Homo sapiens: one gene and its partner. The protein of the gene in region 2 purifies or fractionates together with the protein of the main gene of each other region. This does not show direct contact. Each region holds a gene or a part of one and is shown on either strand. Other genes may lie near its edges. The genes, in order: MPHOSPH10 and UTP18.

What was found.
Region 1: the proteins of UTP18 (region 2) and MPHOSPH10 fractionate together in Homo sapiens (co-fractionation; one large-scale study listed by BioGRID). This does not show direct contact.

Annotation. Positions count from the first base shown.
Region 1 is NC_000002.12:71,140,611-71,144,432, reverse strand, and holds part of MPHOSPH10 (U3 small nucleolar ribonucleoprotein protein MPP10), read right to left. Parts: intron 3,202-3,822; coding exon 3,064-3,201; intron 6-3,063; coding exon 1-5. UniProt on the Homo sapiens protein: Component of the 60-80S U3 small nucleolar ribonucleoprotein (U3 snoRNP). Required for the early cleavages during pre-18S ribosomal RNA processing. Part of the small subunit (SSU) processome, first precursor of the small eukaryotic ribosomal subunit.
Region 2 is NC_000017.11:51,270,336-51,274,157, reverse strand, and holds part of UTP18 (U3 small nucleolar RNA-associated protein 18 homolog), read right to left. Parts: intron 797-3,822; coding exon 708-796; intron 1-707. UniProt on the Homo sapiens protein: Part of the small subunit (SSU) processome, first precursor of the small eukaryotic ribosomal subunit.

The DNA of each region.
Region 1 (3,822 bases), on a different chromosome or scaffold from region 2:
TTTTGCTTAGGAAATAAGTTCAACAATGTCAAACTAAGCGACTTGATATATATCACAGGACAAAACACTAAAGGTCAATGAGAGTATTTCTAACTTCTCATCACTAAAGCTTCAGCTACAAAGAAACATTCCAAAAGCAAAATTAAAAGCAGCAGTACCATGAGGGTTCCAGCACCTACCAGAGATGTGATGTGCATTTTAGGAGCTACAGTAACCATTACCTCTAATACTCAGAACTTAAAAATTTAATTACCTTGGTATTTACTTCTGTCAAAAACTAAGCTATTCCTAAGATGGCTACAGTTGTTTTTAAAAGGAAAATAGCAAGTGATAACAAGTGTTGGCAAGGATGGAGAAACTGGAACCCTTGTGCATTGTTGATAGGTAGGAATGTAAAATGATGCGGCCACAGTGGCAACAAGCTTGGCAGGTCTTCAAAAAGCTACACAGAGAATTACCATCTGACCCAGCAATGCCACTCCTAGGTGTACAACCAGGAGGATTAAAAATAGATACTCAAACAAATACATGTACATGGCACTATTAACAGTCAAAAGGTGGAAACAGCCTGAATGTCCACCAGTGGATAAGCAGATAAACTGTGGTAAATACACACAACGGAATACCGTGTAACCATAAAAAAGAAATGAAGCACTGACAAATGCCAGTCTTGAAAACACAACACTAACTGAAAGAGGTCAGAAATGGAAGGCCACATATGGTATGGTTCCATTTATATCAAATACTCAAAATAGGCCAATCCACAGAGATAGAATGCAGACTGGGGTTTGTTGGGGCTGGGGCAAGTGAGGAAAGGGTAGCAACTGCTTAATGCGTATGGGGCTTTATTGTGGGCTGATAAAAATGTTTTAGAACTAGAGAGAGCTAGTAGTTACATAACACTGTCCTAAATGCTCCCAATTTGTTCACTAAGTGGTTCATTTTATGTTATATAAATCTCACATCAATTAAAAAGAAAAAAAATGGCCCAGCATGGTGGCTGGCTGGGCGCGGTGGCTCATGCTTGTAATCCCAGCACTTTGGGAGGCCGAGGCGGGAGGATCACGAGGTCAGGAGATCGAGACCATCCTGGCTAACATAATGAAACCCTGTCTCTACTAAAATACAAAAAATTAGACGGGCTTGGTGGCATGTGCCTGTTACTCAGGAGGCTGAGGCAGGGGAATTGCTTGGACCCGGGAGGCAGACGTTGCAGTGAGCTTAGATCACGCCACTGCACTCCAGCCTGGCAACCGAGCAAGACTCCGTCTCAAAAAAAAAAAAAAGAAAAAAAAGAAGTAAAGTGTTAATATAGACTTCATAAAATTATCCAAATACCCATTTGGATGGTAGGGACTTTTTTGTTCTTTTATTTACATGTAATGTGTTAAAGATTTATTCTCACAAATCACATTGAAAAAACTGACAGCAATTTTAATTCTACTGAAGAGAAAAAGAAAATTTCATGCTTCTCTCTCTGTCCCCTTTGGCCCCAAATGCTTATTCTAAATGCCTAAGAGGGCTTTTTGTTTGTTTGTTATTAAGACATGAAAAAAAGAAACCCACCAGAACTAGGAAACGATAGGCTCTTTGCCTCCTGATCCTGATGACAGAGATGCATTCAGGTCTGTTTCCAATGTCCATCATCAGCACCCACCTTCCAGCCATAGTCAGGCATCACGCTACTACTGCTTACTATTTTAACGTACCTCACACTTTAAAAAATCCTAAACATGTCCTTTCACCTCATTCTAGGTAACAATATCTGTAAAATCAAATATGTAGCTATATATTGGCTACACAGCATTTTTCTGAGCCACATTACATACACAAATGTGAGTAAAGGGTCCTACATGTGCTGTTTACCATCATTTCACTTCTAGAACTAGCCTAGCTACTAGAACTCCAAGTCCATCCTCAAAAACTTCTGAACTGGCTGTTGACTTCTAAGAGAGAAATGAAACTAACATTTAGAGCTGGCATAAGCTATTGCATTACCTATCTAATTTTTAATTCTCGTGGTCATCAAATACCTTCTGTATCTACCCAATCTCCTCAAAGATTCAAATGAAACTGTACACATCCTCCTTCAGCTACCACCTTGGATTGCAAGGCAGCCAGGAAGAATTTTAATTCAAATCTTTTCAGTTCTTCAGTTTCACAGTGGCATCAGGGCAATTTGCTGTTGCTAACTGAGGGGCATTCATTAACAAAATCTGGTGGGAATCGTAAATGGCTTTTGCAGAAGAAAAATGCCATCTGATCCCTAAGTACCCACATTCCCAATAAATCAAATGTGAAGGAATAATTCGATTATTATATCAGCATATAATATTCCTAGGAATAGGACCTTGTCCTATTATTTAACCAGCGATTTCTTCCTTTCTTTCTTTCTTTTTTTGAGATGGAGTCTCACTCTGTCGCCCAGGCTGGAGAGCAGTGGCGCGATCTGGGCTCACTGCAACCTCCACTTCCCTGGTTCAAGCAATTCCCCTGCCTCGGCCTCCCAAGTAACTAGGATTACAGGCACATGCCACCACGCCCGTCTAATTTTTTCGTATTTTTAGTAGAGATGGGGTTTCACTATGTTGGCCAGGCAGGTCTAAAACTCCTGACCTCAAGCAATCCGCCCGCCTCAGCCTCCCAAAGTGCTGGGATTACAGATGTGAGCCACCATACCCAGCCCAGAGATTTTAGTTAAGTGAAAGAAAAAACAGACCTAAAAATCAGAATGAATTCATAATCATGTAAAATATATCAGTTACTTCAAAATATCAATGAGAAATGCTTTTAAAGTTGTAGCACCACCATAATTGCTAGAAAGTTAATGAGTTGTAAAAGTATCAGGTGACCAAAGTCTAATTGCAAAGCAACCCCCCTCAACCCCTCACATCCAGCGGGAATATTAGAACCCTTCTATTCCTAGCATGCTCTGTCTCATACTTACATGAGGTAGCCAAAGAGCTCAAGATTTCTGTTTCACGATTTCAACAGTCACAAAAAGCCTAGTTCTCTACTTCTATTTCTTTAATAATAATGGCTTGGCCTTACAGGCTTCCTCACCTGGTTGAGTTTGATGTACTCCTGTTCATAAATTTCAGCAAGGCTCAATTTACTCTTCTCATGGTCTAAGGTTAAACGCTTTTTATATTCATATGCATCCTCTTTAGGTTTTTCTTTACGTACTACATCATCCCAAGCCTGAAACATAAAGTGCAGGTAGAACATAACAAAACCTACAATTTATTTCTAGGTTCACTTAAGAATCTTCCTCTGGAATATTATTATAATAAATATTATCAATATATTAATAAATTATCATTAATATATTAATAGTAAATTATATCATTGTTATAATAAATATTTATTATTACTTATTACAGAGTAAGCAAATTATAGCAAAAAGAAAATTTTCAACTCCTGAAATAACTATTCAAGTCACAAAGAATAAACATTAGGAAAGCAAAGAAACCATTACTCAAATATCTTTTTCTGTTTTAAATGAGTCTTCCTACCTGGTTACCAACTTTAATTCCACATTTCCCCATCACAGTTTGTTTAAAAGTCAAGCCTTGAGTTAGTTTATCATGTTTCATTTCAAATTTTAAGATGTTCTGCACATGATACTCACCCTTTAAACCCTTTCTATTTTAGACCCACAAGTGTAGGCAAACATTATACACATGTTATAAGGCCATCTCTTACTGTACATGCCATATATCTAAGTTTTATTCTAAGTTTACAAAATCAGATCAATTCTTCAACAAAAACCACTAGGTTTTTAACATTTGAAAAAAATACACCATTGAGAAATGGTTTTAA
Region 2 (3,822 bases):
TTCACAGGCAAGAAAGGACCTAGCAGCATGTCCAAGAAACAGAAAAAGGCTTGTGTGACTCAAGTGGGAAATCATGGGAAACAGGTCTGATATGAGGCTAAGGATCCAGGCAAAAGCCAGACTGTAAAGGGCAGTGTAGAATACGATAAGGAATTCAGAAGTTTTCAAAAAGCAATGAAAAGTGACATGACCTGATGTTTTATTTTTAAAAGATCCCTCTGGCTGCCATACAAAGAATGATTTAAAAAGAGGTAAAGTAGAAGTAAAGAGTCCAGTCACAAAGCTACTGCAATATGCCAGATAAGAGATGACAGCAGTATGAACTAGGCTGATGCCAATGAAAATGAAGATAAACCAAACGGGATTCCTAGAATTACTGGAAAATTTATTTATTTATTTATTTATTTATTTATTTATTATTTTAGAGACAGGGTCTCGCTTTCACCCGGGCTAAAGTACAGTGGTTCCATCACAGCTCACCGTAGCTTCAAACTCCTGAGCTCAAGCAATAGGAACATAATACCTCTAGAACATTTTTTGCAAAAGGAAAAAAAAAAAACAATAACATAAGTATTTACCAGGGCAAAATGACAGCAAACATATTTAACCCCACAGATAATAGGAATCCATACATCTGCTACTGGGAAGCAAATTAAACTGCAGAGGTAAGTAGTTAGATAGGATCCCCCAACTTCACTGACTCTCACCTTCAAGATTCCTCTTGGAAGAGAAGTTGATGTGGATATGAAATTCCCAGTCCTTTGCAACAAATCATCTTCATCCTCTTCACTTTCATCTAAGTCAAACAAACCCAGAAGGCTGATCTTTAGAATCAATGAGCTGCCCCTTTTACCTACCCCAAACTTCTATGAATATATTTTCAACATCAACTCCCTTTCCAGCCTCCCTACCTCAATTGCTTTTTTTAAAGCTGCAACTGGCAAAAGCAAAACAGGAAAAAAAAAAAAAAAATTTTAAAGGAGAAGAAAAAGATGACACAAAGCTTAACATCCATAGTTAAAATCAAAGTTTAACTCTAGAATGAAAGACTAACACATACACAGATGGTTACTAAAACAAGATGAAGTGAAATAAAAGTTTAAAGCCAGCATTTCATTTAAAAAGAGCAACTCATAATTATGGCAAAATTGGCAACAGGTTGGCTACTGATCTAGTTTAACAACTCACATGAATAAAAACCAGAACTTTTAGCTGAATGATCAATGTCAGCAATCTATGTATCAGAACTTCAAAAAGAGCAAATAGGGCTGCTTTTCCCCCTGGAGATGACTGATGATTCCAGTGGAGACAGCTAAGAAGCTGAGCAAACTTAAAACACTTGCGGAGCTAAGAAGGGAAAAACTAGCTCTAAGCTTCTTGACAGGGTCTGGTAAGCCACCAGATTTTGGATTGCGGCCACAAAGGGCTACCACTAGGATTAAAGACGAAATCAAAGAATTATAAGAAAATCTTCCCAAAACTGAAATTCTGCTTCACAATTCCTCATTAAAATAAAACGTTCTGGGATTACTAGTGTCCTCTGCCAAGCTACCTACCTAGAAGTAAACATATAAACCATCATCCTAGATCTAATTAATCTACATTATTTTTCATATGCAATGTCCACCACTCAATGAAATATAACCAGGCAAATATTGACAAGATAACTTGACTAAAAACCACAAGGAAAAACAGACAATCCCCACAGGGATCTAAACAACGGAATTATCAGACACAAACCTTAAAAATACTATGTTCAGGCCAGGCGCGGTGGCTCACATCTGTAATCCCAGCACTTTGCGAGGCCGAGGTGAGTGGATCACCTGAGGTCAGGAGTCAGAGATCAACCTGGCCAACATGGAGAAACCCCGTCTCTACTAAAAATACAAAAATTAACTGGGCATGATGGCTTATGTCTGTAATCCCAGCTACTTGGGAGGCTGAAGCAAGAGAATCACTTGAACCCAGGAGGCAGAGGTTGCAGTGAGCTGAGATTGCGCCACTGCACTCCAGCCTGGGCAACAGAATAAGACTCTGTCTCAAAAAAACACAAACAACAACAACAAAAAAAACTATGTTTAATATATTTAAGAATGAAAGACAAGATTCAAAATTGAGCCAGAAATGTAGAATATTTGAAAAAGAAATTCTAGAGCTGAAAAATACGTAATTAAAAGTAAGCCCCCAATAGGCCAGGCATGGTGGCTCATATCTGTAATTCCAGTACTTTGGGAGGCCGAGGCAAGTGGATCACTTGAGGTCAGGAGTTCGAGACCAGCCTGACCAAAATGGTGAAACCCCGTGTCTACTAAAAATACAAAAATTAGCCAGGCATGGTAGTGCACACCTGTAATCCCAGCTACTTGGGTGGCTGAGGCAGGAGAATCATTTGAACTCAGGAGGCAGAGGTCGCAGTGAGTGGAGGTAGTGCCACTGCACTCCAGCCTACACGACAGAGCAAGACTAACTCAAAAAATAATAACAAATAAAATTAAATTAAGCCTCCAATAGATGTTTTTAACAGTACATCAAAATTAGCTGTAGAGAGAATTTGTGGTCTAGAAAACGAATCAGAAAAATATACCCAGACTGAAGTACAGAAAGAAAAAGGATAAAAAACACTGAATACCAATGTGGGCAACATAATAAGATCCTGTCACTACAAAAAAAAATTTTTTTTTTCATTAGCTGGGCATGGTGGCACATGCCTGTAGTCCTAGCTACTCCAGAGGCTGAGGTGGGAGGATTGCTTGAACCCAGGAGGTCGAGACTACAGTGAGCCAAGATCACGTCACTGCACTCCAGACTGGGCGATAGAGTGAGACCCTGTCTCAAAAAAAAACCAAACCAAAAAATAGGTGGAAGACATTTAATATACGTATTACTAATAATCTAGAAAGGAAGACTGGAACAGAAACAATACTTGAAGACAGGTGAGAATTTCCAAAACTTACAGAAGACATCAAGCCAGTTCAAAAGTACTATGAAGTCTAAGCAAAATACAAAGCAAGCTAAAATGATAGGGAGAGGGGATAAACAAAGAGCAACACAATACAACAATTCATAATATTAATGAATTGCTGTTGATTTTTGGAGCTGTGGTTATGTTCAAAAGGGAGAATTTTCTTATAACGAAACTCAGTAAATATTTACAGATAAAAATAACACACTGGAGATAATCATGAAGCTGAGTGCTAGTCACCATTCTGTCAACAATAAGTATACCTTCAACAAGTCACTATCTCTTTGAACCTCTCTCATGTACAAAATGAATGTGTTAGACAAGCATATCCCATACTGTAGCAGACTAATTGCTGACTTAATCCACTTCCTTTTTCTCCTGTGCACAAAGCCAAACTACACTTCCTAGGATCCTCTCAGCTAGTGTGGCCTTATGACTGAGTTCCAGCCAACAAAATGTAGGCAAAAGTATCCTGTACCATTTCCAGGAAAGGCCAATAAAAATCCCCTCTTTCTCCTCCTATAAGCCAAGTGGATGTCAACATCTTAGGCAACTCTGGAAGAACCAACCTGAAGATGACAGAACTTCTATAAACTTGGGTCCCTAAAGTAAACCATCACCTTCCTACCACCCCAATTTTATGTGCTGAAAAAACCAACTTCAATTGGATTATGCCACTGGGATCTGTGGGATTTTGTTTCAACAGCTAGCATAACCATACCCAAAATTACAGGAATCTAAAATGTTGTGGGGTTCTATAAATGCAGCATTCTGAAATGGATAATAAAATTATGTTTCATCCAGGAGGGCAAACTGGTGATCTAGGGTCTAGAAGTACGCCACCAAAAAAATGGTCAAAA